3 linked regions of the Homo sapiens genome follow. The protein of the gene in region 2 purifies or fractionates together with the protein of the main gene of each other region. This does not show direct contact. Each region holds a gene or a part of one and is shown on either strand. Other genes may lie near its edges.

What was found.
Region 1: the proteins of WDR20 (region 2) and PHLPP2 purify together in Homo sapiens (affinity purification with mass spectrometry; 4 studies listed by BioGRID and IntAct, with this or other methods). This does not show direct contact.
Region 3: the proteins of WDR20 (region 2) and FERMT2 purify together in Homo sapiens (co-immunoprecipitation; 3 studies listed by BioGRID and IntAct, with this or other methods). This does not show direct contact.

The regions. Positions count from the first base shown.
Region 1 is NC_000016.10:71,649,086-71,660,013, forward strand, and holds part of PHLPP2 (PH domain leucine-rich repeat-containing protein phosphatase 2), read right to left. Parts: intron 9,731-10,928; coding exon 9,568-9,730; intron 9,279-9,567; coding exon 9,148-9,278; intron 7,597-9,147; coding exon 7,486-7,596; intron 6,350-7,485; coding exon 6,155-6,349; intron 3,937-6,154; coding exon 3,705-3,936; intron 960-3,704; coding exon 1-959. UniProt on the Homo sapiens protein: Protein phosphatase involved in regulation of Akt and PKC signaling.
Region 2 is NC_000014.9:102,204,089-102,213,147, reverse strand, and holds the end of WDR20 (WD repeat-containing protein 20), read right to left. Parts: exon of another isoform or gene 4,546-9,059; coding exon 3,268-4,545; 3' UTR 2,621-3,267; downstream 1-2,620. UniProt on the Homo sapiens protein: Regulator of deubiquitinating complexes. Activates deubiquitinating activity of complexes containing USP12. Anchors at the base of the ubiquitin-contacting loop of USP12 and remotely modulates the catalytic center of the enzyme.
Region 3 is NC_000014.9:52,945,938-52,956,731, forward strand, and holds the start of FERMT2 (fermitin family homolog 2), read right to left. Parts: upstream 5,114-10,794; 5' UTR 4,984-5,113; intron 4,641-4,983; 5' UTR 4,632-4,640; coding exon 4,475-4,631; intron 1-4,474. UniProt on the Homo sapiens protein: Scaffolding protein that enhances integrin activation mediated by TLN1 and/or TLN2, but activates integrins only weakly by itself. Binds to membranes enriched in phosphoinositides.

The sequences.
Region 1 (10,928 bases), on a different chromosome or scaffold from region 2:
GTGGCCACTTCAATGAGGTTCAGGCTGTCCTCTAGGGGCACAATAGAGCCATTGGAGAGTTTCTTCCCATAGAGGCAGGAGGTGGAGGGAGACTTCTGTAACTCCATCCTGTCCTTGCTCATTGGCAGGAGCATGCCACTATTCACACTGTTCTGTCTTCGGATCCCAAAACACGACCCTCTAGCATGTTCCTCAGAACACAGGGTAGGAGAACTCTCTATGAGAGGGGGTGAGTTCTCCAGATCCCTCCCCCTGCAGCAGTGGATGTCTACTTCCACCTCTACCTTGCTGCCATTGGTTATGACCCCCTCAACGGGCTGGTCATCATCACTGTCCAGGCCGTTGTCAGACTGGTTACTGGAGAAGGTAGCAGAAGAAGGCTGGCGCTGAAACAGCCCAGAGGTGGGTGTTGGGTGGAGGCTGCAGCGCCGCTCTGGCCTCGGAAGCAAGGCAGTGTCCAGGCCCCCAGCATTATGCTCATCAGAAGCAGTGGACCCCACTTCACTGCTCACCTCTGAGGTGGACATCTCACTGCTGAACTCAGAGGCAATCCCACTGCTAGAGGATGGAGTGGCTGGCTTAGGGGCATCCTTGATAGTGGTGGTTGAAGCAAATCCCACAGGACCTGGGAGGGTGAGCCCATTCATTTCACAAGTGCAGCCTTCCTCACCAATATTCAAATAAACTACCATCGCCCCTACATTGTCCTGACAGCCATAGCTCTGCGCTAATGTGCACAGCTTCTTAGCAGCTGCTAATGGGTCTTGTACGTGACGTACAGCATTGACAGCTTCTGTGTAGGACAAGTGTTCCCACAATGCTTTGTTTCCCAGAATCAGCAACTCATCTTGAATGGTCAGCGGAGTGGAAGATATGTGGGGCTTGGGGAGGATCCAAGGGTAGAGGTATGTACAGCCCAGCATCCGGGTACAGCAGGTTACCCCATTCACTTTGTTGTCCTACAGAAGAGCAGGACACAAATTCTGAGAAACAAGCAACGATGAGAGCCAACTTATCTTTCTAGATCACAGTGCTTAGGGAACTATAATAAAACAATTTATATATGATTTTTCCTATGGATTAGTATAATTTTAAATGGATGCACACAAATAAATGTAGAGAAGTCCTAAAAGACAAAATATTATATGGTTACTATAGAGCCAAGTAAAAATAAGTGACTAAAAGGCACCACCATCCCAAAAGATGTTTGCTTTAACATGAAGAACAGGCCTCAGTATGTCTATAAATAGAGAAACATGACAGAAAAACAGTAAGCAGAACTATCATTAATTCTCTATCACTAGTACTCTCAGAGAGGATGAAACAGAAAGGTCACTAAAAGTGATTTCTCACTTAAAGGGATGTCAGCTGGGACTGAAAAGATACCAATGGCAAAGACAATCTTGGCAGTTAAGGCATCAAATAATCTCTAAGGTTATTCAGCCTAAAAAAGGGGAGTCTGAGATGTGCAGCATAATTTACCTATGCTCTGGGGACTGTATCAAGAATAAATAGCGATCAAATCAAAATCCCTGTAATTCAAAACTTAGAGGAAACAGAGTAACCCTGCTTGCAGGTTGGGAATGCTCACAAGCCAGACACTTTGTTGTACTGATTTCAAGAAACGAAAAAAATACAAAACAAAACTCTAAAGTCATCAATAAATTAATATCACAGTTGCAATCACCCTCTGGGAGAAGACCTGAGCTTATTCGCCAGAATTTGTCATAAACTCTAAACTGTACTTTCTTCATCTGTAAAATGAAAATGGGAGTTTAACAACTACCCACTGAATTAGAAACTCTGGGGCTAGGGCCCAACAATTCATGGGAGTTACTGTTAAGATTAAGGAAAATAATAAAGGTATGGTGTTTGGCAAATAATGGACAAACAATAAATGCTTGTGGCTAAAATAACATTTATAAAAATACTTCCTACTTGTCTACAATCCCCTAAGAAAAATCTAAACATTGGCCAGGGACGGTGGCTCACGCCTGTAATCCTAGCACTTTGGGAGGCCGAGGTGGACGGATCACCTGAGATGGGAGTTGGATACCAGCCTGACCAACATGGAAAAACCCCATCTCTACTAAAAACACAAAATTAGCCAGGTATAGTGGCGCATGCCTATAGTCCCAGCTACTCGGGAGGCTGAGGCAGGAGAATCGCTTGAACCTGGGAGGTGGAGATTGTGGTGAGCCAAGATCACGCCATTGCACTCCAGCCTAGGCAATAAGAACGAAATTCTGCCTCAAAAAAAAAAAAAGAAAAGAAAAATCTAAACATTATCCAAATTCTATAAAAAGACTAGTCAAACAAAAAGTTATCTGAAGCCAGGCGCAGTGGCATGTGCCTATAGTCCCAGCTACTCAGGAGGCTAAAGCAGGAGGATCACTTAATCCAGGAGTTCAAGTCCAAACTGGATAACACAGCAAGACCTTGTCTCTAAAAAAAATAAAAATAAAATAACTAAAAATTTAAAACACTATCTTTTATCTTTCATTTGTTTTGACTGAAAGAGCTTCCCAAAACTAATGCCTCATACTTCCAGAATTCTAATAGTATCAATCACATAAAAATGATGGTTTTTGATTTTGTTTCCTTAGATGAACTCTAATATAGAATTCTGACAAAACAGCCCAGAAATGGACCCACACAAATACAGTCAACTGATCTCTGAAAATCAAAGAGCAAAGACCATACAAAGGATAGTCTTTTCAACAAATGGTCCTGGAACAAGAGGACACCTACATGCAAAACATGAATATAGATACAGAGCTTACACTTTTCACAAATATTAACTCAAAACAGACCATGGACCAAAATGTAAAACACAAAACTAAACTTCTAGAAGATAACACAGAAGAAAATCTAGGTGACCTTGGGTTTGGCGATGAGTTTTAGATACAATACCAAAAGCACGATCCATGAGATAAAAACTGACAGGTGGGCCTTCATTAAAACTAAAAGCTCTGCAAAAAAACACTGTTAAAAGAATGGAAAGACAAGCCCCAGACTGGGAGAAAATATTTGCAAAACAGGTATCTGATAAAGAACTTGTTTCCAAAATATACAAAGACTCTTAAAACTCAACAATACAGAAACAAACAATCCAATTTACAGTTCTCAAAAGATCTGAACGGAATTCATCACGGAATTCCACTTTGTGATAAACAATGTTCACAAGTAATTGCTAAAGTTCTTCTGAAAGCAAAAATGTTAATTTCTAAAAAAGGAGAAAAGCTATAAAACAGTAGAAATACTGATGTTTCATTATCAAAAGAGAACACCAGAGCATACTACACCACATAGAGTATAAACACAAAACATTTTGAAACTTTGCATTTCAGAATGGGGATGTCAAACTAGAGAACTCTTTCTTCTATTTGGAATAACAAACCAGATGAGCTGGAAATTAGCTAAGGCAGATATTTAACATCCATCTTACAACCCAGCTATCAATATACAGGATCACAAATTAGGATTTTGTATTTCTAATTCACTTTGCTTTTTCTTTGTGCTAGTCACTAACTGATCAGATTTTCCTCCAGTACTGTTGCTGAAACCATCTGCATTGAACTTTTATCTGGATTGGATACAATTTACAGGGCATGATAGGAAGAAAATGGGCCTTCATCACCTCTACACAAAGCAGCCTCCACTGATTTGGGGAGCAGAAGTGACTGGCGGGGAGCGGAACACACCTCTGTGATGATGGCTTTTTGGTCCTTCACCCTTTGAGCCTCCTCTGGGTCCTGCTCCAGGCTGAAGACTTTAGAGAGGGGCACTGGCTTCCCACCTCGGCACAGGACTGCTTGGCACGTGCCAACATTGGCTACAGTCAAGCTAAAGCTACTTGCTGGATCGGCAGTGTCAGGGCGGATGTAGCACAGGAGAGCGGAGGAGCCCAACTTCTGGCCAGCCATTCCTAATTTCCTGTTCAGAAAGAAAAGGAAAAGAAGACGTGGTGGCTAGTTTTAGAAGAAAGTGGTGGTCCTGCACGTACATCCCTTCTTTTTTTTTTTTTTTTTTTTTACCATGTGATCGTGAACCAGCCTTACCCTTATCCACCTAAATGCAGACTTGCTGTGGCTGATGGTGGTGGAGACAGTTCTGCCTTCCACTCTCGCTGAGGAAAAGGTTTTACAAAAGGGAGATAATCTCCCTTTTGCATCTTTCTCCATAGCTTTTGTGTCTGATCAAAGACTTCCTAATTCAGGGGCTCTCAAACTTTAACACATCAGAATCCCCTGAGGGCTTGTCAGAACAGGGACTGCTGGGCCCTAGGCCCAGAGTTTCTGAATCAGTGGGTAAGAGGCTGGCCCAATAAACTATACTTTAAGCAATTTCTGGTGAGGCTGAGAGGCTGCTGTTCCTAGAACAACACTTTGAGAACCACTCACTTAGGTTCTAAGTTCCTCGAGGGAAGGACCATGATTCTTGCATTTCCCCCATATGCAGGGCATCCACGCGTCTGTACTTGGAAACAATGTTAACGAGGAACAGACACTAGCAGAAAGACCTAGTTTCAAATCTCAGCTCTGCCATTTTCTGGCTACAGACACTCAGCAAGCCATTTCTCCAGGAAATTTCTCTGATAAAATATATAGCATGGAAAATACTTGCTACAATTCCTGGCTTGAGTTGCTTCATAAATGGAGTTCCCTTTCCTAAACCCTTTATTTTTGCAAAGTCTCTAGCTCAATTATACTACTGAAAAACTGACTTCTTCCTAACACTTTGCTTTGTGTTATGACAGATAAAACTAATTCAAGCCCATCCTGGCTAACACGGTGAAACCCCATCCCTACTAAAAATACAAAAAATTAGCCTGGTGCAGTGGCTCACGCCTGTAATCCCAGCACTTTGGGAGGCCGAGGTGGGCAGATCACGAGGTCAGGAGATCGAGACCATCCTGGCTAACACGGTGAAAACCCATCTCTACTAAAAATACAAAAAATTAGCCGGGTGAGGTGGCGGGCACCTGTAGTCCCAGCTACTCGGGAGGCTGAGGCAGGAGAATGGCGTGAACCCGGGAGACGGAGCTTGCAGTGAGCCGAGATTGCACTACTGCACTCCAGCCTGGGGGACAGAGCAAGAAGACTCCGTCTCAAAAAAGAAAAAAAAAAAAAAAAAAAAAAAACTAGTTCAAGCTCCAAGCTGTTCCATTTCAACCTGGATTATACAAGTTGACAAACAACCTCTCAGTTGTTCCTATCCTTTATCGGTCCACCTGACATGCAAATGCTCCATTACAGTTAGGTTATACAGATGTCCTCAACTTATGATGGTTCAACTTAAGATTTTTTGACTTCACGATGGTGCAAAAGCAATACTGTATGCATTTAGTAGAAACTGTACTTTGTATTTTGATCTTTTCCTGGGCTAGTGACATGTGGTACGATGTTCTCTCATGATGCTGGGCAGAGGTAGCGACCCATAGCTCCCAGCCAGCCACTTGATCACAAGGGTAAACAACCAATACAGTGCCCTGTGTCACCACATGATTTTGCCCAACTATAAGCTAATGGGGTAAGCGTTCTGAGCACACTTAACGTAGGCTAGGTGAAGCCATGATGTTCGTTAGGTTAGGTGTATTAAATGTAGTTTCTACTTACCACATTTTCAACTTATGATGTCAGGCTTACATCCTTATCAGGGTGTAACCCTATTCTAAGTTGAGGAGCATCTGTATATGGTTTTTGCCCTTAAGTGGCTTATACTTTACTTAGAAGATTAGTTTGGTAAAACCCCAGAAAGAGGCATTCTAAACGTTATCAATCTGATAAGTATTTGGTTAACTGTTTTGTAGGTCACTGACTGCTTGGACAATCTTATGAAAGCTGACCACCTTCCTCCTCAAAATGTACAACCACATATATATACACACACAACATTTTGCACATAAATTCTGGGCTTCCCAGATCCTCAGCAGCCTTTGGATTCAACAGAGAAAACAGATGACCCCCACAGGCTTTTGAAAGAGCCGAAGTCCCCGCACTCCATGCTCATATAGAGAATGATCATAGAAGACAACAACGTGAGTTCTCTCCTTGATCCTGTATCCATAATTTAGACCCTGACCTTCTGGTTTAGAAAAATATATTTTCCAAAAGTAGAACTGAGTTAGGGATTTTTCAACCCACCTGCTTACCTGTGAGATACCAAGAAGGTGTTAGCCATGAAAACTGTGTCATTAGTTGACTGCTGTACCTCTTCTAAAAGCACATCTGCCATCGTACACTGCAGCAGGCGCGGGAGCTCCTCATTTCGGTCTCCATCAAACATGCCATACACAGCTCCCACCCCCTCTGCAAAGCTATCCATAGCAAGTGCTGAGACACACAGCCTATAATAGAAACATGAAAACAGAAAACAGAAAAGTTACTGGTAAAATATTATTCTCCAGGGAGCATTCTTTTTTTTTTTTTTTTTGAGAGGGAGTCTTGCACTGTCACCCAGGCTGGAGTGCAGTGGCATGATCTTGCCTCACTGCAAGCTCCACCTCCCAGGTTCACGCCATTCTCCTGCCTCAGCCTCCCGAGAAGCTGGGACTACAGGTGCCTGCCACCACGCTGGGCTAATTTTTTTGTATTTTTAGTAGAGATGTTAGCCAGGATGGTCTTGATCTCCTGACCTCATGATCCGCCCACCTTGGCCTCCCAAAGTCCTGGGATTACAGGTGTGAGCCACCGCGCCTGGCCAGGAGCATTCTTTTAAAAAGTAAGTATTAATTAAAGGTGGCAAAGACTACTAGCAAATCGTAATCTACACGTAAGAAAAGTCCCTAGACATGATAATTAAGCAACATCTGAAAGAGCTAATGTCCTAAGGAAAGGGGAAACAGTCGCATTCATGGGCAGTACATATTAGCTTTGCAATGCTGCCAAAGGCTGGTAAGATAAAGCACTTTCTCTTAGTAGTGACTAAGGATTAGCTTTGTCAAGGCCTATCAGTCAAAGACCACCAGAGCACACCTATGGTTGAAAAAGTTGAGTTTATTACCCCTTATAGCAAATGAGAGTGCACCCCATGGAACCCCGGGGTATACAGGTAAGTCTTGCTGAAAAGAACCCAGTATAGGGTTTGGACTTTGGTTTGGTCACTTTGGGGAGGGTCTAAGGAAGAGGATCATACTAGACTGGGTGTCATCAGAAAGTGAGGCCATTCTATTGCTGGGTATAAAACTTATCTATAGGGAAGGAAAATTAGCAGAAGGATAAAGCTGTAACTGGTAAAGAAAGTAGCATCTACCCATCTTAGCCATGAAAGGGGGTGTTTGGTATTCTGTTGACTACACATTAGTATTGTTTTTGTCTTAAAACGTTATCATGATCCCAAAGGGATCTTATCTGACGCTGATGTTCTATGATTTGTCTGTGTACAACAGAACAACATGGCCTAGCTATTATGAGCATCAGGCCAGTTCTCAGATGCCAGGGGCTGCCTTTTTTCTTTCTCAGTCTCCATGGCCAATATACTCACTTATTTCTCTGCCCTGCCATCTCAGCCAGTCCATGGCTCCAGAAGGTTGACGTAACTGTAGAATCTGTGGTTGGCAAAGGTTTCTGATCAATTTTCAGGGTTGTGATATGGCTGTGGGAGGTGAAGGAAGATTAAACCATATATTCTTCTGTATTTTACAAAAACTATCCCAACAATAGTATTCTTTTTTTTTTTTTGAGATGGAGTCTCCCTCTTGTCACCCAGGCTGGAGTGCAGTGGTGTGACCTCAGCTCACTGCAACTGCTGCCTCCCGGTTCAAGCAATTCTCCTGCCTCAGCCTCCTAAGCAGCTGAGATTACAGGTGTATGCCACCATGCCCGGCTAATTTTTGTATTTCTTTATTTTATTCTATTTTATTTATTTATTTTTTTGAGACGATCTCCCTCTGTTGCCCAGGCTGGAGTGCAGTGGCGCAATCTCGGCTCACTGCAACCTTCGCTTCCTGAGTTCAAACGATTCTCCTGCCTCAACCTCCCAAGTAGCTGGGATTACAGGCACCTGCCGTAACAACCAGCTAATTTCTGTATTTTTAGTAGAGACGGGGTTTCACCATGTTGGCCAGGCTGGTCTCGAACTCCTGACCTCAAGTGATCCGCCCGCCTCGGCCTCCCAAAGTGCTGGGATTACAGGTGTGAGCCACCGCTCCCGGCTAATTTTTGTATTTTTAATAGGGATGGAGTTTTGTCATGTTGACCAGGCTGGTCTCAAACTCCTGACCTCAGGTGATCCACCCACCTTGGCCCCTCAAAGTGCTGGAATTACAGGCGTGAGCCACCACGCCCGGCCAACAATAATATTATCTTTTTTTTTTTCTCTTTTTTGAGAAGGAGTCTCGCTGTGTCGCCCAGGCTGGAGTGCAGTGGCGTGATCTCTGCTCATTACAAGCTCCGCCTCCCGGGTTCACGCCATTCTCCTGCCTCAGCCTCCTGAGTAGCTGGGACTACAGGCGCCCGCCACCTCGCCCGGCTAATTTTTTGTATTTTTAGTAGAGACGGGGTTTCACCATGCTAGCCAGGATGGTCTCGATCTCCTGACCTCGTGATCCACCCACCTTGGCCTCCCAAAGTGCTGGGATTACAGGCGTGAGCCACCGCACACGGCCAATAATATTATCTTTTAATAAAATAATCTATGGACTGACTAAGATTCATTTCCAGAGAGACTGATGAAAGTAGTATGCTGAACTACTGGCAAAGAAGGAGGGGAGAGAAAGGAAAGGGGTAGGAGGATCAAAGGGGTAGGAGTTTCAATAAAAAACTAAGCACAACAAAGATTTCTATGTTTTAGCCAACCATCTATTTATGTTAAGTATTTTGATACAATGAAGTCTTGGTACAATGGATGAACTTGTATTGTCTCTTAGATATTATATAATCTGTGCCACCTAAAACATCTATGCCTGTTGTGAAAATATTCAGTATGTTGGGGGGTAGTAGCCATGGAGTAGTCCTAATATAAACAGGTTGACTACTGGATAGAACATCTATTCATAACTTAATCAAAGAAGAGAACCTAGGGGCTTTATAGCCTAACTTCATTCTGTTCTTTTAATTAATCAAGATCTCCACAGTACTAAGGAAGACCTACACATGGCTGGTGGGCTAAGAGCACATAGAGATTCCATTTCAAATTTTTTCCTACCTAAATATGTCCAGTGTCTTGTGTTCCAGAACCAGATTTGTATTTCCAGTCAGGTCAAGGTCTTGTAATGTAGCAGGCAAAGCCTCTGGAATCAGGATTTCTGTCAAGTCGTTGCAACTTAGGTCTACAAACTAAGAAAAAATTGAGAAATCAAAAGAAAATACATCACAGAGACTTAGTTCTTTACTCCCAAGTGTCCAATCTCTTACTATATCCCCAAAGAGGAACTTAATTTCTTCCCAGGAATCCATTACATAAATTCTGGTCCCAAACTGGAGCACATAAGAAGACAATAATATTTTTCCTTATAAGAATAATCTCATTCACACTCCTTTCTTCTTCTTTATAAAAGGAAAATAATGTCATTCACTCTCCTGCCATTTCCCCCAATAAGGACATCATTCCAGCACACAGAAGTACCTGGATCTGAGGCAACTGCAGTATTTCTGGGAAAATGCTGATGTTGTTGGAGTGTGCAACAAGGGTGTGCAGCCTTTTACAGTTTGCTATGGTTGTGGGAATGGTTTTAAGCTTGTTGCCACTTAGGTTCAGTTCCTCCAATTGCTCCAATTTATTTAGTTTGCTGAAAAAGAAACAACAGAATACTATAATGCACCAAGACTGAGCAGCTGCCAAGGAAGTGCTATTCTACAGCAGCCACAGAGTACAGAAGGCCGACACGGTCCACTGCCAGATGACTGGTGAGAAATGAAACCGATACCAGGAATACCAGGAAAGGCAATGGCTCAAGAAGATAACTACTCCTGCTATAACTAAGCCTGATCTGCCTCAGTGTGTTTCAAGGGCTGTTGGATCTTGTGGGCAGGAACATCTTCCTGTTACCTAATGTACAAAAAGTGGCTAGAAAAGGAGTGGCCTCAAGTTGGGGGATTAGTCTTGATGCTTGCTTTACCACTAACTAGCGGCAAAATACTAAGTAAGTCAATGTCAGCAGTCTTTAATACCCTCAGCTGTAAAAAATGAAAAATGAGGTTGTACTAAATCATCACAAAGATTTTTTTTTTTTTTTTTTTTTGAGATGGAGTTTCACTCTTGTTGCCCAGGCTGGAGTGCAATGGCCTGATTTCAGCTCACCACAATCTCTGCCTCCTGGATTCAAGCAATTCTCCTGCCTCAGCCTCCCGAGTAGCTGGGATTACAGGCATGCGCCACCACGCCCGGCTAATTGTGTATTTTTAGTAGAGACAGGGTTTCTCCATGTTGGCCAGGATGGTCTCAAACTCCCAACCTCAGGTGATCTGCCCACCTCAGCCTCCCAAAGTGCTGGTATTATAGGCATGAGCCACCGCACCCGGCCCATCACTAAGATTCTTTACAGTTTTAAATTTCTATACTTACCCATTCATGACATTAACTCATCTCCACTAAACATTTATCAAGTTCTTATTATACACACAGCACTGTGCTGTGAGGCAAGTGATTCACACTGTTCCATGACTGAGCAAAGCTTTCTACATGGTAAGCAAAATAACTTAAGTGAGACTAACACCTTCAGGTTATTACAAATAGTTCTAATTTATTTTGATTTATTGGTTTAAAAATTACAAAAATAATAAACTGCTGTTAACATGGAGAGAAAGTGAAAAATAAAGAAATACATCACCAATACCAGCAATCTGAAAGAATCACTTTTATCATTTTGCTGAATTTCCTATCAAATGTTTCATATATTTGTTTTACAAAAATTTTATATCTTGCCTTTTTCATATAACATATCATAAATAATTTCTACTCCTAGAAATTTCATATTTTTAAATAAC
Region 2 (9,059 bases):
CTGGCTTCTTGAATTCTGGTGAAAAAGGCCAACCCAAGGAGGGCGAGTTGAAGCTCCCCTGGCCCTGGCCTGGCACCTTCAGAAGGTGTCTGACACCGCCCAGGGACCAGCTCGCCCCCTTGCCGGGTGGGAGCGGGATTCTCCAGCCACGCAGCGTGCACCTGACTTTCGTCTGAGCCTTTCATCTCTGTGGTTTGGTACACGCTGGAACAGTGATGCTGACTGAGTATTTAACAGCCTCTTCTTGCCAAATGCTGTGTTTTATTCCACAGATTAGGTTAGAAAAGATATTCTTGCTCATAATAACGTTTAGGCTGAAAGACTGAAAAATTTCAATGAGGAAGCTCAAAGTTTGGCGAGAAAACTACAAATATTTTCCCCAAATTTCTCCTAGGGTTAGCAGCACGCATTGCACCTTACACACCTGATATCAGGAACCACCGCGGCCACCCCTCCCCAGGCCCTCCCCAGGTCTGCGGGAGCCATTACTCAGAAGCACAGCCGAGGAGAAGGGCGCTTCCCTGCCCCTCTCTCCAGTGCCCTCTTCTCAAGCTGTTGGGCACTTTTAGTTCTGGTCTTGGAGAACACCTTGCATCCTGTCCTCCTGCCTGCAGAAGTGCTCTGCCGGCTGTCAAAGAAAGGGGCAGCAGTCAGAGGGGCAGAGTGGACACAGAGTGGTGTCGCCCTGCAGGGCCTGGGCCAGCCTGGGCTGAGCCAGGGGTCAGGACATGCAGTCAAAGGCAGCCCCTCCCCAGGCTGGCACAGTGCTCTCCACTGGGCCCTGAACCCAGCAAGAGGGGCCTTGGGGAGGGCACGTAGACACAACGAAGGGGCCCCAGACAAGGTACCAGACAGACATTAAGGACAGTACACTCCTTGGCAAAAACTGGAAGAAAAAGATTGTTATCAAGCCTCAAATCCAAAACTGACAATATCATAGTGTTTAAAACTGGAGGTGGGGGGAGAAAGACACACACAGGCCTCCATACTAGACAGCACACTTCGGAGTTGTTTTCAAAGGAAACATAACCTCCTCCTCTTGCCTCTCCCACCCCTGGTTCCTATCAGCAAATGACTCCTAAGTCACCTGTCAGTGTACCCCTGCAATCCCTCTTTCATCCCAGCCACTGCGACTGAGAATTTTAAAGAAGGGGGAGAAATCAGAGAGTCCCCAGTCGGTCACGTTGGTTACTCGGGCACACACCCCCACGGCTTCCCTGTCCAGGGCAACACCTTCAGAACTGCAAGGTCGCCAGAAATGTCACCATAAATGCTACTTACTTGGGATCGGCCACTCTCTATTTAGGCCAAATACTAAGTCCTGAATTTTGAAACTGCATACTCAATGCCTCAGAAGCATTTGAAACTGAACGTTTACAACTATGTAGGTGCAAAAGTTGCACATGGAGCGTTCATCACTAATCTCTCCACATGACCCAATTTGGCCTCCAAAGCGGAAACTGTCCACAAGGATGGCTGTCATGGCTACCTTAGATCAGTTCACCTTTAGGAACAAAGGCCCGTATTCCACAGGTAGAGAGGACACGAATACTCCTAGGAGCAGTGCTCAGGGATGTGAAAGGCACAGCCAGGAGAGATGCACCTGAAGGCTGCTGTGGTTCCCAGGTGGCAGCACGCGGCCATGCCATCACACTCAACAGAAACCACTGCGTTAAGGCCCACGATGGGCACAGGGTGGATGGCGCCACCGTGACATGTTTGCAGATGGGAAGCAGGCCTGGGAACCTGGCCCGGCTTTCCTGGGAGGGCTGCGTTAAGAGCACAGGGAGCTGCTGCTTCAGCTACCAGGGTCTTTACACTGCAGAGAAAGAAAAGCCACCAGGTCTTCACTTTGCTGAATCATATTCACTACGCAAACTGGTCTAAGTGATCGTTGTCTCTATATTTAATTACAAAGGTGTACAACCTAAATGCCCAAAATGAGTTAACAAGTAAGATAACCACCATCTTGACATGGAATACATAGTTCAAGGGGCCATCTCACCCACTGGGAAAACCAGAATTTGAAAAGCAGCTCCTGGTGCAGCAGTAGAGAGTGAGGGTGAAAGACTGCGGTCTCCGGGGGAGCAGCAGAGCCTCCCACTGCCGAGGAAGCCACAGGCCACCAGGTCCTGGGCTGAGGCGCTAGGGTGGGAGCCACTGAGGACGAAGCCTACGCACATGGCCAGCGTCAGCATCCCAAGAGTAATCCCGGAACCACAGCTGCCATCCAAGAACAAGGAGAGGGGAAACCTGCACTTCCGCTTCCTCTGCGGGGGACGAAGCCCAAACGAGGGCCATGTCAGGGAGAAGTCGGAAGACTCGGGGAGTCTCAGGCTTTACGAAACAAAGCGCGGAGGAGTCACGTGCCTTTCTGACCCAATCCCCCTCCCCCACCGCACCTCCCCGCCCCCGGCAAAAAACCAAAAAACTCCTTTTCCCTTGTTGGGAAAACACACAAGCAAAGTGCATCTGAAGAAAAGGTCTTCGCTTATGTGGCAAGAGGCACTTCTGCAATGCTGTTGGCGTCCTCGGCCCGCAGTTCCCACGAACTGTCAGGCTCTGAGTGAGGTACGGGTATCTTAGTACACAGAACCTCAATCAAAGTGCTACAAACTGCTTCTTTGAAAAAAGATGTTTATTAAACAACTTTAATTGTCATAAAATGACTAAAATGGGTTTTAAAAATTAAGGCTCTTCTCTTTCTGTGGATTGCCAGAACAATGTAAAAATAATATCAATCAACCCTGCTAAACGTTTTGTTCCTAAAGTTAAATTTCATAGATTCCTAAACATTTTATGATTAAGATAAAAAATTGGACTATAAATGACAATTCATGGCCATCTGTGCTGAACACACATTGATCAGGTGTACAATATTCTAATTGAGTAGTTAAGCAAAAAATATTCCAGTTAAAGCATAAATTTTAATTTCAGCATTTTAAAGTCATTGTTTCCCCACATGGTCATGATTTTCCTAAAATTGAAATAGTCTAATACAGGAGCGCTAACCTTGGGACTCTATATACTCCCAGGAGGATGACTGACTTGGCTGGCAATTAGTTTGATTATATTTTTTTAAATGCTCTAAGGTAAATTATCAAATGATTCAGAATTACATGGCATGCAGTATCCAAAATTATGGCTCTGATGCATTGAGATTTACATTAAGAATAAGAAGTGTCATTCACATTCATTGTACACCCCACCCCTCCCACGAAAAAGAAAAAAGTCACTACCTATTCAAGTTCTAGATCTGGTGCAGCATTAAGGATTAAAACTTACCACTTTACCAGGCCTTCCCCATGTGCAAATAAATCCCTCCTGACAAGCAGTGACTATACAGTCTTCAAGAAATATTAGTACAGTCAGTCTCTCATGTGCTATCTTTTTACATATCAGCGGCTCTAACAAGGGAACATCTTCCATTCGAGGACACAGGGGCGTTCCCAGAGTTTTAGCAGGGTCCGTTTTGGTTTTGGTAACTAGATTCAGTTTGTCACTGCTCTTGCTAGAAATGTGTCCCATGCTATGATTTCGCTTGTGATCTTTCTCGTGGTGCCTCTCCTTCCGGTCATGTAGTGAAAGTGTTGCAAATTTGCTGACCCCAGAAGCAATGGCCCCGTCCATGACACTGCTTTTGCTGCCAGCATTTGAGACTGCTGAATGTGGAAGGCTGTTGGACCGTGGCAGAGGAGGCGGCACAGAGTTCCCGGGTGTTGTAACACTGTTCCCATTGCTTCCAGCAGGAGGACTCGTGGCATTCATGACATTTGTGTGTGTCCTTGCTCTTGAGAGGGGTTGGTGAGGGAAAAGGATATCTTCTGTAAGGTCCCATAAACAGAGCTGTGTGTCCTGGCCCACGGAACCAAACCGATACGTGACACTTACGGGGCGGCTGTCTGTAGAGTTCCGTTTGGAGAGCCTGGACTGTGTACTATTTGCTCGATCTCTGCCAAAATGAAGAAGGTCTTGGAAGTCCTCATCGCTGCCACTAAACTCCATAGGGTCACCTTCTTCTACACTAGTGGTATAAGGGTCAAACGCTACAACACTGACCCAGGACTTGTGCCCGTGGCCTCTGGCTATTACTCGGCAGTCTACAAAGGACCAGACTGTCACCAAGTCGTCCTCCCCACCTGTCACGATGTACTTGCCATCCGGGCTCCAGCACACACACAGCAAGCCCCCAAAGTAGCTTTTCATCGTACCGTGCAGCTCCACTGAGTCAAAGTTGAACACCCGCAGAAACCCGTCCTGGCTCACGCACGCTAAGAACTTGCCATCTGGGGAGAAAGCAAACTCGTTGAGGGCCCCCTCGCCCACCGTCCACTTAAGGAGAGGGTTCCTCGTGGATTTGCTCTTGCAAGTGTGCACGGCAAAGCTCTCTCCCTGCTTCAGAAGCTGGTAGTGGGGGGCTGTGGTGCCACAAGTGTGCTCCACATTATATAAGTACATGTTCCCACTCGAGTGGGCTACTAGGAAAAGGCTTTCCGAACCGGGAACCCATTTGACACAGGTAACTCGTGACTTGTCTATTAGTCTCTGTGAAGACAAAGGAGAACAAGTTAGCACAACGGAGAAGTCTCAAAGGTCTACTTTTCCAGCAAGAAAACTTGTGTGCTTCTCGATGGGAAGGGGCAAGTCTATCCAGGCCCTCCACATTTTATCCTGCAGTCAGCCAAGCCAGCAAGGAGCGTTTTGGCCCTTTTGGGGTAATTTAGAATTACTTTCTAAAATCGGTGTTAGGCTGCTGGCTTTCACGGAGGGAGTCAGGCAGCCAACAGATATTTGCAGAGGGGCCACTAAGTGCCAGACACGATGCCAGGCACAGGGTTCACTGCGGAGGGAACAGCCCTGCTGGGATCTTTCTTCCTTGACAGTAGGTGCATCTGAATCTGGGGGTCACTGCATCTGCATGTGGTATCCCCTCTACGAGGACCTGCAGGTGAAGCCTGTGAGTCCTCACAGCCAGGAGGGCTCTGCCTCACCCTCACGGGTTCCTCTGCCTTTACTGTCACTGTAGGTAATGGGCTGGTTCCATCTGCCCCTCTGCTCTGGCGGCTCGAAGGTGGGGAGTGAAATCCACAGTCCATGGCTGGCAGCACACACAACTCCAAAACAGAGCCTGGGCCCACTGAGGCCGCCTCACTCCCATGCACCGCCCCACGTGCATCTCCATAAGCATCTCCTCGAAACCCTCTCTGCTGGTGTTGAGAGAGATACACTGACGATTCATTCGGGAGTGTGTGTCTCATTACCATCACTCTGCTCCATATGCTAACTTTGGACCCCTGACCGAGATGTTTCTTTAACAGGCGTATGTCAGTAGTCTTGCCTTTAAAACCCAAATAACGAAGGGCAAAAATACCTGCCCCACCAAAGGCACAAGTCTCTTTCCCTGCTTGCCAATCAATCCTGTGATGGGGATGCCAGCGCAACACCTTCCACAGGGGCGGTCCCTTTCTGGACCGTCTGAGCGCAAAATCGCATCACCAGAACACATCCAGAAGTCCCAAGACTCCCAAGTTCTACCTAGAAGCTCCTACTGCCAAGTGCTCTCCACTGCACCATCGCCCCAGTAACAGTGTCCCTTTAGGAGCCCAGCAGCCCCAGGTAAGTTGAACACCACCGCTTCACCTAACAGGTGGGGAGTCCCTGACTCAAGTCTCAGAGGGGTACTGGGCACACAGGGGCAGAATCTGCCAAGAAACATGCCGACTTCTGCCAGGGTGGCTTTGAGGCCATGTGCCCGCCATGTGTGCTACATCTTTACAGAGAATTACAGAAATAAGACGACTTGATTTTTAAAAGAACGGCTGGGAAAGAAATTAATGAGCCATGCAAGCTCACTGCATGAACATTAGACCCTAGAAAGTAGGCTGCTAACAAAGGACCCCAGGCAGGAAGAACGGAGGCCTGAACGCCACACAGCATGCGGGCCCAGGGCTGGGGACCATGCATTGGGCAGTTACTCAGCAGCAGGTGTCACTGCTTACTGCCGTAAAACGGCATGGCTGGTCCTCTTAAATTAATAGGCACGTGGCAAGCCAGCCTTGGGGACACAGCCAGTATTTTCATCCCCCACCTCCTCTTTATCCTCCTGCCTGGTGACCTACCTATAAACAGCACCTGACCTGCACTAATGCCAACAACCTAAAACCCAGCGCTGCTCTGGCAGGATTTCCATTAGACCTTCGTGCAATTTTCTCAGCAAGGGGTTACAGAGATAATTTACATGGCCAGAGCAGGGCTTTTTTTTGATGGTGGAGGGAGGTGCAAGGATGATGGGATGGTGAACGGTGGATTAAGAGGCCTCCACTCCCCCATCACAGCTCTGCCAGACCTTGCTGTGCCCACTGGGCCCAGACTACCCCAGCACTCTTGATCCCACAAACACAACTGTACCTGATCGCCCAGGGCCTAAGGGTGTCTGCAGCTCGCTCCATCACTGGCCTTGTCAGGCAGGCCTACACCAGCTAACTCAGGCCTGGGAAGCCAGACTGCTGTCCTGATTTTGGTACAGTGGCTCCCAATTCCTGCACCTTACATTTCACCAGAACCAAATCAAATCCCAGTTTTTCTAGGATCACTTCATTGTTACTCTATTTACCATGTGTGGAGAAATTTCAGGACATAAAAACTTCTAGCAGCACGGTTAGGAGTAAATTTTATTTTGGGCCTTAAAAAACACAACAAAAAACTGCATGAGAACTCAAAAACTAGTATGATCAAGTAAAAACAGTATTGCTTTGCAATAGTGAGGTATGAACAGCATTTATAGCACCATTAAAAATAAATGTTACTGCAATGACAAAACACATTAAAAACCTTCACTCCCGTATTAAGAAGCTGCACTGTGGCCAGGCGCGGCGGCTCACGCCTGTAATCCCAGCACTTTGGGAGGCCGAGGAGGGTGGATCACTTTAGGTCAGGAGTTCGAGACCAGCCTGGCCAACATGGTGAAACCCTGTCTCTACTAAAAATACAAAAATTAGCTGGGCATGGTAGTGCGAACCTGTAATCCCAGCTGCTCTGGAGGCTGAGGCAGGAGAATCACTTGAACCCAGGAGGCGGTGGCTGTGTGCAGTGAGCCAAGATCACGTCATTGCATTCCAGCCTGGGCGACAAAGTCAGACTCCATCTCAAAAGAAACAACAACAAAAAAAAACAGTGCACTGAGACGACCCTAAGTAGACACATGGATGTAACTTACAGATAACATCCTGTGCCAATCTACTTCAATCCCCCTGTGGGGGCCTAATTAAATGTTACTGTGACACACTGGCAATGGTGGACTGAGCACACCAGTTTAAGCAACCGCAGACCAAAAAAAAAAAAAACCGACCTTGGATCCACCTGTATTGTGGTAAGGGTTTCTCACTTGCCTTACCCATTGTTTTTCTCTGTCAATCATGTGCTTGACAGCAGGGAAAACACGTGCTTCTCTGGGGGCGCCCTGTGTCTCAGCAATATCAGGGTGAGTGGCAGGCAGGCAGCAGTGTCTGTGGGCAGCAACAGCAGCGTGCTGGCCCTCACTTCCAATCAGAGTGTCTACTGTGGGTGCTGGCCACTGGTAGAGGCTTACACCCATGCTCTCTAAGCCTCAAAATTACCTTTCAAGATACGCTTTTTGTGTGAATGGGTAATACATTATTAATTCACATAAAAGTATACAGTAGAAAGCCTTACATTCTTCTACTCCATTCCGGATCCTCTGTCCTGAGTCACTGTACTAGTTTCTCATTTCTCTCTCCAGAGTGTCTTTGTGCATGTACAAGGCAAATATGAATACGCATTTATCCACTCTTCTTTTTCATACCAAAGGGAGCATACTATGCACTGTCTCACCTCTGCTTTCTCATTCCATATCTTTTTTTTTTTTTTGAGACAGGGTCTCGCTCCATCACTCAGGTTGGAGTGCAGTGGTGCAATCACGGCTCACTGCAGCCTTGACCTCCCAGGCCGAAGCAATCCTCCCACCTCAGCCTCCTGAGTATAGCTGGTGCTTCAGGTGAGTGTCGCCACACCCAGCTGATTAAAAATTTATATTTTTTGTAAATACAGGGTGTCGCTATGTTGTCCAGGCTGGTCTCAAACTCCTGGCTTCAGGAGCAAAGCAATCCTCCTGCCTTGGCCTCTCGAAGTGCTGGGATTAAAGGCGTGAGCCACCATGCCCAGCCTCCAAGTGTATTTGTACATCAGTCTGTATGGGCACAAAGACAGCATCCTCATTCTTTTCTAAAGCTGCAGAGTATTCAACTGTTTGGATAAACTGTGGTTTATTGTGGAAGTGCCCCACTGATGGACATCTATGTAGCAATGAATGCCCTTGCACACACGCACTTTTCACATGTGTGAGTAATGTACCTACAGGATAAACTCCCAGTGGAGTAACTGAGCCAAAAGATATATACATTTATGATTTTTACAGATGTTACCAAATTGCCTCGCATGGAAAATGGAAAATGCAGTCATGCCTGTCTCCCTACAGGAAGGCAGGGATTGTCGCCATATTATCAGTGAGAAAAGAAGCTTAGAGAGGTCAAGAAACTTGCCTGAAGTCCCATCCATCCATCCAGTATTGAGTGCGTACCATATGCCAGGCACTGATACAATATAAATTAAAACAGGCATCTTTCCCTCATGAAATTTAGGTTCAAGTGGGATGAGAAGACAGTGAAATTTATGTGATCTGATGATGATAAGTGCTGTGGAGAAAAATAAACCAGGGAGAGAAGAGAACGTGCTGGGGAGAAGGGGACTCTAGTGATTTCAATGTTGAATAGGATGGCCAAGAAAGGCCTCTTCCTCTGCTGGTGCTGGACAGCTGAGCAAGACAGAAGGACAGAAAGACAGCAAATATCAGGCTAAGAGGATGTTTGGGGAAGTGTACCCCCACAGAGAACAACTTCAAGGACTCCGAGGCGGAGAGACACAGCCGAACCAGTGCCAGGGGAACAGACGGGCCCATCAGACCCCAAAGCGAGCATGCTGTCTCCCGTTCCACAGACACACATCACCTGGCTCCGACGACCAGCCTGCAGGGCCACTCCCAA
Region 3 (10,794 bases), about 49 Mb from region 2:
ACTATCTCGGCTCATTGCAACCTCCGCCTCCTGGGTTCGAGCGATTCTCCTGTCTCAGCCTCCCGAGTAGCTGGGACTACAGGTGCCCATCACCATACCCGGCTAATTTTTGCATTTTTAGTAGAGGCGGGGTTTCACCATATTGGCCAGGCTGGTCTCGAGCTCCTAACCTTCTGATCTGCCCGCCTTGGCCTCCCAAAGTGCTGGGATTAGAGGCATGAGCCACCGTGCCCAGCCAAGGATTTAATACTTCTCAATGACCTCCAGAGGAATCCCATAAAATTGGGCCTCTTCTTGACAAAATTTATTTTTGAAGACAATTTTATTTTGATGTCTTGTTTTTATAATCCTTATCCCTGATATTTCATATTTAAAATTTTTCTTTTAAAAAACACTATACACGTTTGAAATTTGTCTTTGATTAAAAAAAAAAAAACAGGCATGGCAGCTCACATCTGTAATCCCAACACTTTGGGAGGCCAAGGTGGAAGGACTGCTTGAGGCCAGGAGTTCAAGACCAGCCTGGGCAACAAAGCAAGACCCATCTCTACGAAAAATTTTAAAAGTCAGCAAGATGTGGTGGTGCGTGCCTGTAGTTCCAGCTACTCAGGAAGCTAAGGCAAGAGGATTACTTGAGCCCAGAAGTTTGAGGATGCAAAGAGCCATGAACACACACTCACTCCAGCCTGGGTGACAGTGCAAGACCTTGCCTCAAACCAAACCAAACAGTACTAAATTTTCACAATTCTTTTTTTTTTTGAGGCGGAGTCTTGCTCTGTCGCTTAGGCTGGGTGGTGTGATTTTGGCTCACTGCAACCTCCGCCTCCCAGGTTCAAGTGATTCTCCTGCCTCAGCCTCCCAAGCAGCTGAGATTCCAGGCACATGCCACCACATCCAGCTAATTTTTGTATTTTTAGTAGAGATGGGGTTTCTCCATGTTGGTCAGGCTGGTCTCGAAGTCCTGACCTCAGGTGATCCACCTGCCTCAGCCTCCCTGCCTGCTGGGATTACAGATGTGAGCCACCGTACCCAACCTAAACTGGATTTTAGGGTGTTTTTCACTTTCTGGATGAAGTATAAACACTGAGGGGATCAATTATTTATGAAGTATCAGCCTAGACTAAGTCACAAATGCAAAAACTTTGTCACATTACGATATAATTCCCCAAAGCCCACTTCATGACATATGCTTTTGCTTTCTTTTAAAAGATTAATAGCAAATGACAAATGTGTTTTATACTGAGATTTAAAAGAGACCTAGGATGGGCGTGGTGGCTCACGTCTGCAATCTCAACACTTTGGGAGGCCAAGGCAGGCGGATGACGAGGTTAGGAGATCAAGACCATCCCGGTTAACACGGTGAAACCCCGTCTCTACTAAAAACACAAATAATTAGCCAGGCATGGTGGCGGGTGTCTGTAGTCCCAGCTACTCGGGAGGCTGAGGCAGGAGAATGGCGTGAACCCAGGAGGCGGAGCTTGCAGTGAGCCGGGATCGCGCTACTGCACTCCAGTCTGGGCGACAGAGTGAGACTCCCGTCTCAAAAAGTAAAAAATAAATAAATAAATAAATAAATGAGACTTTTCAGATCTTTGAATTAAAGTCAAAATTCTAAAAATTGTGTTTTAATGGCCTTAAGCAAAGTGTACACGTTATTTATAATAAAAGTCTAACTAAACACAAAGATATTACTGACACATATTAAGGAAACATTATTTACACTTATGTCGTGCTTAATTAAAATGCCGCACTCTGGGATGAACCCTAGCTTCAAGATGAACCTGACACACAAGGGCCAAACCATAAAATTGTGTCATGACTTCTTTTGTTACAGACCTCTTTGAGAAATTAAAGTGAAGAAGCCTCTTCCTAGAAACTTCCACATGTGCACACACACAATTTTAATACAATGTTGAGGGAATAGGTCATCCTGAGATCTATCGACTTCAGGGAAATAATTGCTGCTACTGAACATTATCTGGGAAAATCACCTTAAAATATAATGCTTTTGGTATTCATATACCGTCCAACAGATTAAGAAGGATATCAGACAGTCTGGAGTTTGAAAATGTAAGTGAATGCTCTGGTGTCTTCTGTTCATAACTGCTTCAAGGCCACAGTAGCCCAAGTCTGCTAATTTTCCATCACTGCTCTGCAAACCTGAGACAACAGACTTTGTACCATCTCATCCCTACCACCATCTCCACCTTTTATCTAGACTCTGCAAGCTGCTTTGATCCTCTCTAGCCACTGTTGGCAAGTAGTCATCCAGTCTGCCCTTTAATACCTTCAGTGACATAAGTCAGGGCTTCAGAAGGCAGGTCATTCCAGTTTTACGCAACTCTGAAAAATTACAAAGTTCTTTTCTAATTTGACTAGCCTGATTTGTGGATGTTTTAAATGCTGCCCTACCGAATCTCTCCTCTATTTACTTGCTGATAGGCAACGAAATAGCTTACCATTCAAAGCATCTAATCCTAAAAACCAAAAGCATCACTTAGCTCTACTTTTACCAAACAGGAAAGTCAGAGGCACTTTCTATTTGGAATTCAAAATATAAGAGGAATCAGTATGAATTCAGTTCAGAAAAGATGTAAGGTTTCCATACGCACAGCATTTCCTACCTTGTTGGGCTTCTTTTCTCTGCATAAAAAATTAAAAATGTATCAGCATTAAAAGATTAAGATTATAGTCATTTAAATTAACATCATTTCTGTCTGCAGTTTATTCTCTATATTTCTATTTATTACTGTGATTCTATAATAAACAGTCCTAAGCAATGCAAAATAAATATAGAAACCATTATTTATTCATTAGCTACAGCCTGGCTTTCGAGAACTACAAGTTGTCTCAGTCACCTTCAACAGCTCCTTTTTTTGCAATATAAAAAATATCTCCTATTGAGACCAATGTATTAATATGGTCCATTTACCATAAATTAGAAAAGCTCTAACAAAAATGCTTGTTTTCTTTGAAAACAAAATATCCAAATATTTGCTATTTTCCTTCTTAAATAATCTCATACCAGAGCTGGACAAAAAAGGTTCATACATATTTTGCAAACAGTGACTGATTTATTCAAATCAGATAAAAATACTGTTAACTGCCAGTTAAATGGTTAATCAATACAGCAAAATCTAATTTTCACTGGGCTACCTAGGAGGATTTTCTTTCCTGAGCTGTATCTCAGGGAGCCAAACAATGCAGTCTTAAGGAAGAGGCTACCTTGTAAGGAGCTTCACTTTGGTCCTTCAATAATAAAACTTCCTGCAGGGGTACAAAGCAGGTCCACCCAAATGAATCCTGCCTTATTTTGCAAAATGCATCAGAGTGCTATTTCAGTACCTTTACATACAATAATCCTTTGGTAAGAAATAGATTTCCTGACAAATAAGCACTTCTCTACTTTCCCAGTGTAGCTTGAAAACGAATGCTGTGTTTAAAAAAAAAAAGAAAAAAAAAAAGACGAAAAAAACCCCCAGAAAGTCCCCAACCCCCCTTCACCAAAACAAAAAACAATTCCAGCCTAAAAAGACAATGCCACACAGATAATCATCTTATCACAACTGTATTATGTACAAAAGGCTCTTTAAAGCTCAGGAAGATAGTTCTCTGAGCATTTCTCTTATGATCAAATCATCTATTTAGCTGACTCTTCCAGATGAAAATGGTTTCATTCATCACAAAAATGTGTACTGCACACTCTTCACACACTTCATACTGTAAGATACCTTATTATTTTAAATCGGATATCAATCCAATACATATTTGTACTCAAGCAAACACCGTCAACCTCAAATTAGTTTAACAAAGTCTGCTTTTTAACACAAAGTTCTTTCCTTGGCTTGTTATTAATATAAAACCGAACGCTCGAAACGGCTTACATCGAGCATGGACTATGGATACCAAGTTTGTCAAGCACTGCCCCACCCCTAGTAAGAGTGGATGACTGGAACATTTTAATGCACTCCACCACGTAGAACAGCCACAGAAACTTCACACTGGCGCCAGTAGTTGCACATTTTCCAGCACAGATTTTTCTTAAATGGATTTTGCATCATTCTCTATACCAAACGTCACTAACATTCAGGTATGCTGAAGACATAGATAACCACGGACACTGTAATATCACCCTCCCAACACACTTTCCTCATTCTTTTATCGTTCTGTCAGTAAATGTTAAGAATTAACGAGTTCCCCGGCACACATCCCCCGTCCCGCGTAACTACGCAATTAAGGTTATAATTGGGAGGCTCGAATCATTACATATGAAAATTCAGAGAATAGCAAAACAAAATAAGACGCAAAGGGGAACAGGTCTATCTGCTTAAATACTGAAAGATTTTACATCTCCAAAAAGCATTTGCGAGATGCCAAGATTTCTCAAATGGGCCCCTCCCCCGTCGTGAGCCTCTTTCCTCCCCCTACCAATTCTGGGAAGTCATTAGTTGGACGCGGCTGGGATGCTACTCACCGAGTTTCTCCACCAGCTTAAGCATCACGCCTCCAATGTGCACCTCGCCGGTCACTCTCAGGGTGACATCGCGGTTCAGGTCCGTCACATGGACACTCAGTTCCCACGTCCCGTCCGCGTAGCAGCCATCTGGCATCCTTATCCCGTCCAGAGCCATGGCTCCTTCCTGCGAGCGCGGAGGAAATGGCTCTCGTAAGCGTCACTCCCCCAAAGAAAGGCGAATCCCACCGAATTCGCAGCGCCGGCCACGGGCTGGGAGGTGGTGGAGGACCCGGGGCTTTCGGCAGAAACTCGGGAGGGCGGCGGCGGCCGGGGCTGCGGGAGGACCCTACGCCCCGCTCGCCCCGCAGCGTTCCTCGGTCCCGGCGCCGCCCGCCCCACACCGTCCCCGCCTAGCGGACCGCGGAGGGCTTCACCTGCCGGCCGGCCCCGAGACACAGCGCGGGCTGACTCCCCGTTCCCCTCCCCGCCGCGCCCCCTCGGGTCCCGGCGGGGTCCCGCTCCCTCACCGCGCGCTCCTAGCGCTCCGGGCCCGGGACTCGCGCGGCAACAGGCGAGGGGCTGGAGGCTCGCGGGGCGGCGGTGTCCGCGTCCGGTTCCTCGGCTGGCGAAGCGCTGCCTGTGGCCGGAGCGGCTAATGGAGTCCCGTCGTCGCGGCCCCTCGCCTGGCTCCCCGCGCTCCACCCTCTCCCCGCCCCCTCTGTCCGAGCCTGGCTGGGCTGGGCGCGCTGGCTCCCTCCTTCGCCGCCCGCAGAGCTGCCCTGAGCGGGTCCGGCCGGCCTCGCCTCTGCCCCCGCCCTCCCGGCGCCGCGCTCGGGGGAGGGGGCTGCGGGTCCCGGGCGGGGCGGGGCGGCGTGGGGCGGGGCGGCGCGGGGGTGGCGGGGGGCGCGGCGGGGCGGCAATCTCGGCCCCGCGGAGCGCTGCCCTTTTATGGAAATGAAGGACCCGGCTCAGGAATTGAATCCAACATCCGGGCTCTAGGCGGCGGGCCCTGAGGAGGGGGAGCGGGGGAGCGCGGGCGGCCTTTCCCGGGGCGCTGGTGGCCGGCGGGGCGTCTAGAGCTCAGGCTGGACTGGGGCCCCCGCGGCGTGTGTCCGCGCTGGCAGCAGGGAGAGGGGGCTTGTCCGTGAGAAACGGCCCCAGGAAATTCCCAGGGCAAGGTCGTTTTCGGAGAACAAAGTCCTCTCGCCCCCTCCCCACGCCTGCAGCGAGACAAAAAGCCTCAGGGAGGTGAGAGGTGCCGCACCCCGGGAGCTGGAGAGAGGAGTCTGGGACGGAGAAACTTTAAAAAGTAAATGCCCAAACCAACTCCTTGAATGTCCTACAAAAGAATAAGAAAACCCCGAGGGAGGTGAACCACAAAAATTGCTTTGCAAGCAATGTCCGGCACCATCAGCAACTCCTACTGGACTCCCAGGAGTTTGCAAGCGTTCTTAACCCCTTCGGACGCTCCAGCCAGATGCCAGTCAAACAGATGATGCTCTTGCCTGAGGGGAAAGGAAAGACACAACCTAGTGCCACAGGTTTTACTCAGAAACTGTTTCCCCAGCTTCTCCAGCTCTTTGTACTTATTTGTGTGTTTTTATATGCAAGTTAGAACTAACAGTCTATTAAAGCTGTTAGATGGAGATACATGTTCCATCCCACCCTCAGCCACACCTTGGATTTTAATACTTCTGGAACGGTGCCTGCAGGTACCAGGAAGAGCTAAACAACTTCACCTGTTGAAGACTGGCTAGTGATGGGGAACGGTCCTCCTGCTTCCCGCTTTTGTTTCCACTTCCCCCATTAACTGTTGTACTCTGTTGAGGGAACTCCTTTCAGAAACAGCAAACCAGAGAAACTGCCTCGCTAGCAAATTCATGGGCTCAGAAAATAAACGTCAAGAAGGCTCAGATTAAAATACCTTTTAAAGATAAAAGACTCCAGTTCGCAGTCTCATAATCTTGTCGAATTGTCTCAAACGCTTGGAAAAGGAACTCGCTAGGCAGATAACCTTTTGTTCATTAACATTACTGGGAAACAAGATGAGAGGCCTCAAGAAAGGGGTGGAACTCAGAAAGGAGTGAAAGCAGCAAAATTTAGTCAGATGCCAAAGGCTTGGCAGAAAAAAAAATAGGGAAAACCACTACAGTGTTTTTAGCTAGTTATCATGGAGAAATTGATGCCTTCAGTCTCTTATCTGTCTACTCTCCAATATTTCTACTCGTGGACGTTCCAAATAGTTCACTTGAAAGCAATATGAATGTCCGGAGATGAGGGAGTTTATGTAAATTATGGGGTTGAAAATATACAGGAAAATGTTTTTAATAAATTAAGGAATTGCTTGTTAGGGCACAAAACTGCAGAACTGGATATGCAGCTATAAAATTAAGAGCTTATTTACGTTAAATGTTCAGAGAAAAAGACTGTAAGGAAATACAGCAAAATGTTAAGAAGCTCTCTGGGTCTTGAGATCACGGAAGTTTTTTCTTTCTTTTATTCTTTATTTTCTGCCAACTCAAAAACTTTACACCACCACCTAGAATTGCATCCAGCATTTCAGTTTCTCTGTACATGCCATGACATTCACGATGATAGACACTGGATACAGCAGCTACTGACTGAACGATGGACAGGATTTTCAGAGGTTTCCTTTGGTGTTTTTTAAATAGTTCTAAAGAAAACTTGAGTTCTTTAAGAGCAGAGATTTCAAATTATTTTCATTGTCCACAAATTCACAATAGCTTGGTACAGAGAAAATGGAAAACATGCTGGTGTCAAACCAACACAAATGTCAAAGAAACAGTGGGTCTGTTCCATGGAGAAATCTCAGGGGCCAGGTACAGTGGCTCATGCCTATAATCCCAGCACTTTGGGAGGCTGAGGCAGGAGGATCACTTGAGCCCAGGAGGTGGAGGCTGCAGTGAGCTGTATTCACACCACTGCCCTCCAGCCTGGATTGATCGCAGAAAAACAAAAAACAAATCTCAATGGGAAAATCCCCACTTTAAAAATATACTTATTTATTTCCCCCACTTTATCCCCCAAAAGATTTATGGCAACGTATAAGGATGCATAAACTGTGAGATAGTATACATTATAAGTGGCACAAAACAAGAAAAAAAAGGTGGGTGGGGATTGGGAGGCTTAGAGGGGTGGAGTAGAGATTTATTTATTTATTTTGGAGTAGAGATTTAAAATGGAGCTGGGAATGAAGCTAAGAATTGTATCTTATGACATTTGCACATGCTCCAGTAAGCTACAAAAAAATTATGGCTTTCTAAACATGCCTTTCTAGAACCTAAAATATCTATGCCCTTTCTGAATATTCCCTTTCCTTCAGACAAAATTGTTGAAGCCAACTGTCATGGTTTAGAAACTCTTTTAATACAGATGGTCCCTGACTTATGATTTTTTGTTTATGACGGTGTGAAAGCGATAGGCATTCAGTAGAAACCGTACTTTGAATACCCCTAGGACCTTTCTGTTTTTCACATTCAGTACAGTATTCAATAAATTACATGAGATAGTCAACACTTTACTATAACATGGGCTTCATATTGGATCATTTTGCCCAACTGGAGGCTAATGTAAATGTTCTGGATACATTTAAGATAGGCTAGGTTAAGCTGTGATGTTCGTCGGTAGGTTAGGTATATGAAATGCATGTTTGACTTACAATATTTTCAATTTACAGAATGTAACCTCATCATAAGTTGCAGAGCATCTGTACTCGGTTTCCAAATTCTAGTTATTTTCCCACTTTCCAGTAAGAGTTACTTTCTGAACACCCCCACGACAGCACCGACTGCTCTAACTACCGTGCTTTCCTGAATCCACTTCTACGAATGTTCTCTACATTTAGTGACAGAGAGTGGGGGTGGGGAATTTTAATATTGTGAATAACTGCCCTATTTCTTAACATTTGAAATCGCTTGAGTATAGCTTCATAAGACACTTTACTGGCTTTAGAAAGTCAGCAGTATATATTTGAGCAATTAATGCACAGGAAGGCAAGGACCTTCAGTTAAGTACCAGTGGAAGAATAATTAGATTAGGTTGGGTGCAGCTGATCCCTTCAGGCCTTCTTTTTGACTATTTCAAGCTGTCACTTGCTTTGAAGATTAAAGAGGAGTCAGCCTCACCTCTCTGAAACTGGGATTTTTTTTTTCCAGTTTATCAAGTGACGCTTTCAAGTGCATTTCTTAAATATTCACTTCTACCTAAGATTTAGAATGTATTCAAATGTAGACTCTTATCTGAAATCCCCTGCTAGAACCACTAGGACAATGCAATGCTTGTGGTACTTACATCATACTGAAAAGTAGCTGAGTACGCCAGTGTTTGGAAGAACAGCTCAAGCAATGAAAGCAGCAATATCCAAATAAGGTACCAAGCACTGGACTTAGATTTAGACCAAGCAGTGCCTCACAGATCTGCCGTCAAATGCAGCCCTCGGGCTTGGTAATGCTCAGGTTGACTTTAGCTTTTTTTCTGTGCCTACTTGCACTGTGCTTTATATTTCTAGAAGGTCAATTCAAAATATAACCCCTGGGTTTGAAAGAAGGAGAGAGGATGGGGGTAGGAGAAAATAAGAGAGGATTTGTGTGGGTGTGAAATGTGTAAGGGGGGACTTGAAAATGCGACATGAGGCCAGCAAGATGAAATGTAATGAATTATTCTTGTCAAATACCAGGTGGGTAGAATTCTTTCTTTGTCTTGGGGATTGCCAAAAATGGCACACACCAATAACGCTACTAAAGAGGTAGAAATCCAGGGGTGTGGAATGTGATCTAAATGGGAAGGGAGGTTGCAAAAGCCACTTTTTTGACAGAAATGGGCAGTCACTGTAATTAGCAAGAAAAGGACTGGCAAACTGAGAAACAAGATTTGCTAGGAATATGGCTGTTTTCACAGACCAAAGAAGGGCTCCGAGATAACAGTGAAATCTTTAAGGGGAAAGAAATGCACTGCTTACATTTACTGCTTTAGTTACAGAAAGTTTTATGTAGGAAACCATGCTCGGGATACCTTTTCCCCCACCTCCCCCCACCGACTTAAGTTTGAACACCAGGACATCTTGTGAAATATTCTTCACCTCAACAAAAATATCAAATGTTCACACGTACAAACACAGTAACTATGTGTCTAGCACAGTGTAGGACATTGAGACAGGCATGTAAATGTATAACACATGTCACAAATTCTTAAGGAACATCTATCTGATACAGGAGGCTTATATTTAAAACATCAGAAAGGACAGCCACGTACAACATATACAAAAATTAACTAAATACAGCATAGGCTTAAATGTAAGGTCTAAACCTATAAAATTCCTCCAAGAAAATATAGTACTAAACGTTATGACCTTGGATTAGGCAATGGCTTCTTAAATAAGACATCAAGGCATAAGCAACAAAGGAAAATATAGTTAAGTTGGATTTTATCAAAGTTTAAAATAGTTATATTTTAAAGGCAGCAACCAAAATGTGAAAAAGCAATTTATAGAATGGGAAGAATATTTGCAAATCATATATATTTTCAGTGACTTGTATAAAAAATAAATAAAGAGCTATTACAATTCAACAATAACCCCAGACAAATAACCTAACTAAAAATGGGCAAAGAATATGGATATACAGTTGTCCAAAGGAGACATACAAATGGCCACACAGAATATTCTCAACATCATTTATCAGCAGGGAAATACAAATTAAGGTACAATGAGATAACACCTCACATCCTACTAGAAGGACTATAATAAAAAAGATGATAACAAGTGTTGGTTAGGATGTGGAAAAATTGCAACCCTTATACGCTGCTGATGGGAAAGCAAATGGTAAGTTGCTTTGAAAAACAGTTCGGCAGTTCCTCAAAAAGTTAAACATAGAGTTACTATATATATGGTCACCATATATATATAGATATAGTTAGCATATACATAGCTACCATGGTCTGAATGTTTGTGTCCTCCTAAAATTCATATGTTGAAATCCAAACCCCCAATGTGATGATATTAAGAGATGGGGAAGGCCTGGTATAGTGGCTCATGCCTATAACCTCAGCACTTTGGGAGGCCTAGGTGGGAGGATCGCTTGAGCCCAGGCATTTGAGACCAGCCTGGGCAACATGGTGAGATCATGTCTCTGCAAAAATAAAAGTAAAAAAAATTATCTGGGCATCAAGGTGGGCACCTGTAGTCCCAGCTACTCAGGAGGCTGAGGTGGGAGTATTGCTGGAGCCCAGGAATTTTTTTTTCTTTTGTTTTTCAAGACAAGGTCTCACTCTGTCACCTGGACTGGTGTACAGTGGCACGATTTTGGCTCACTGAAGCCTCC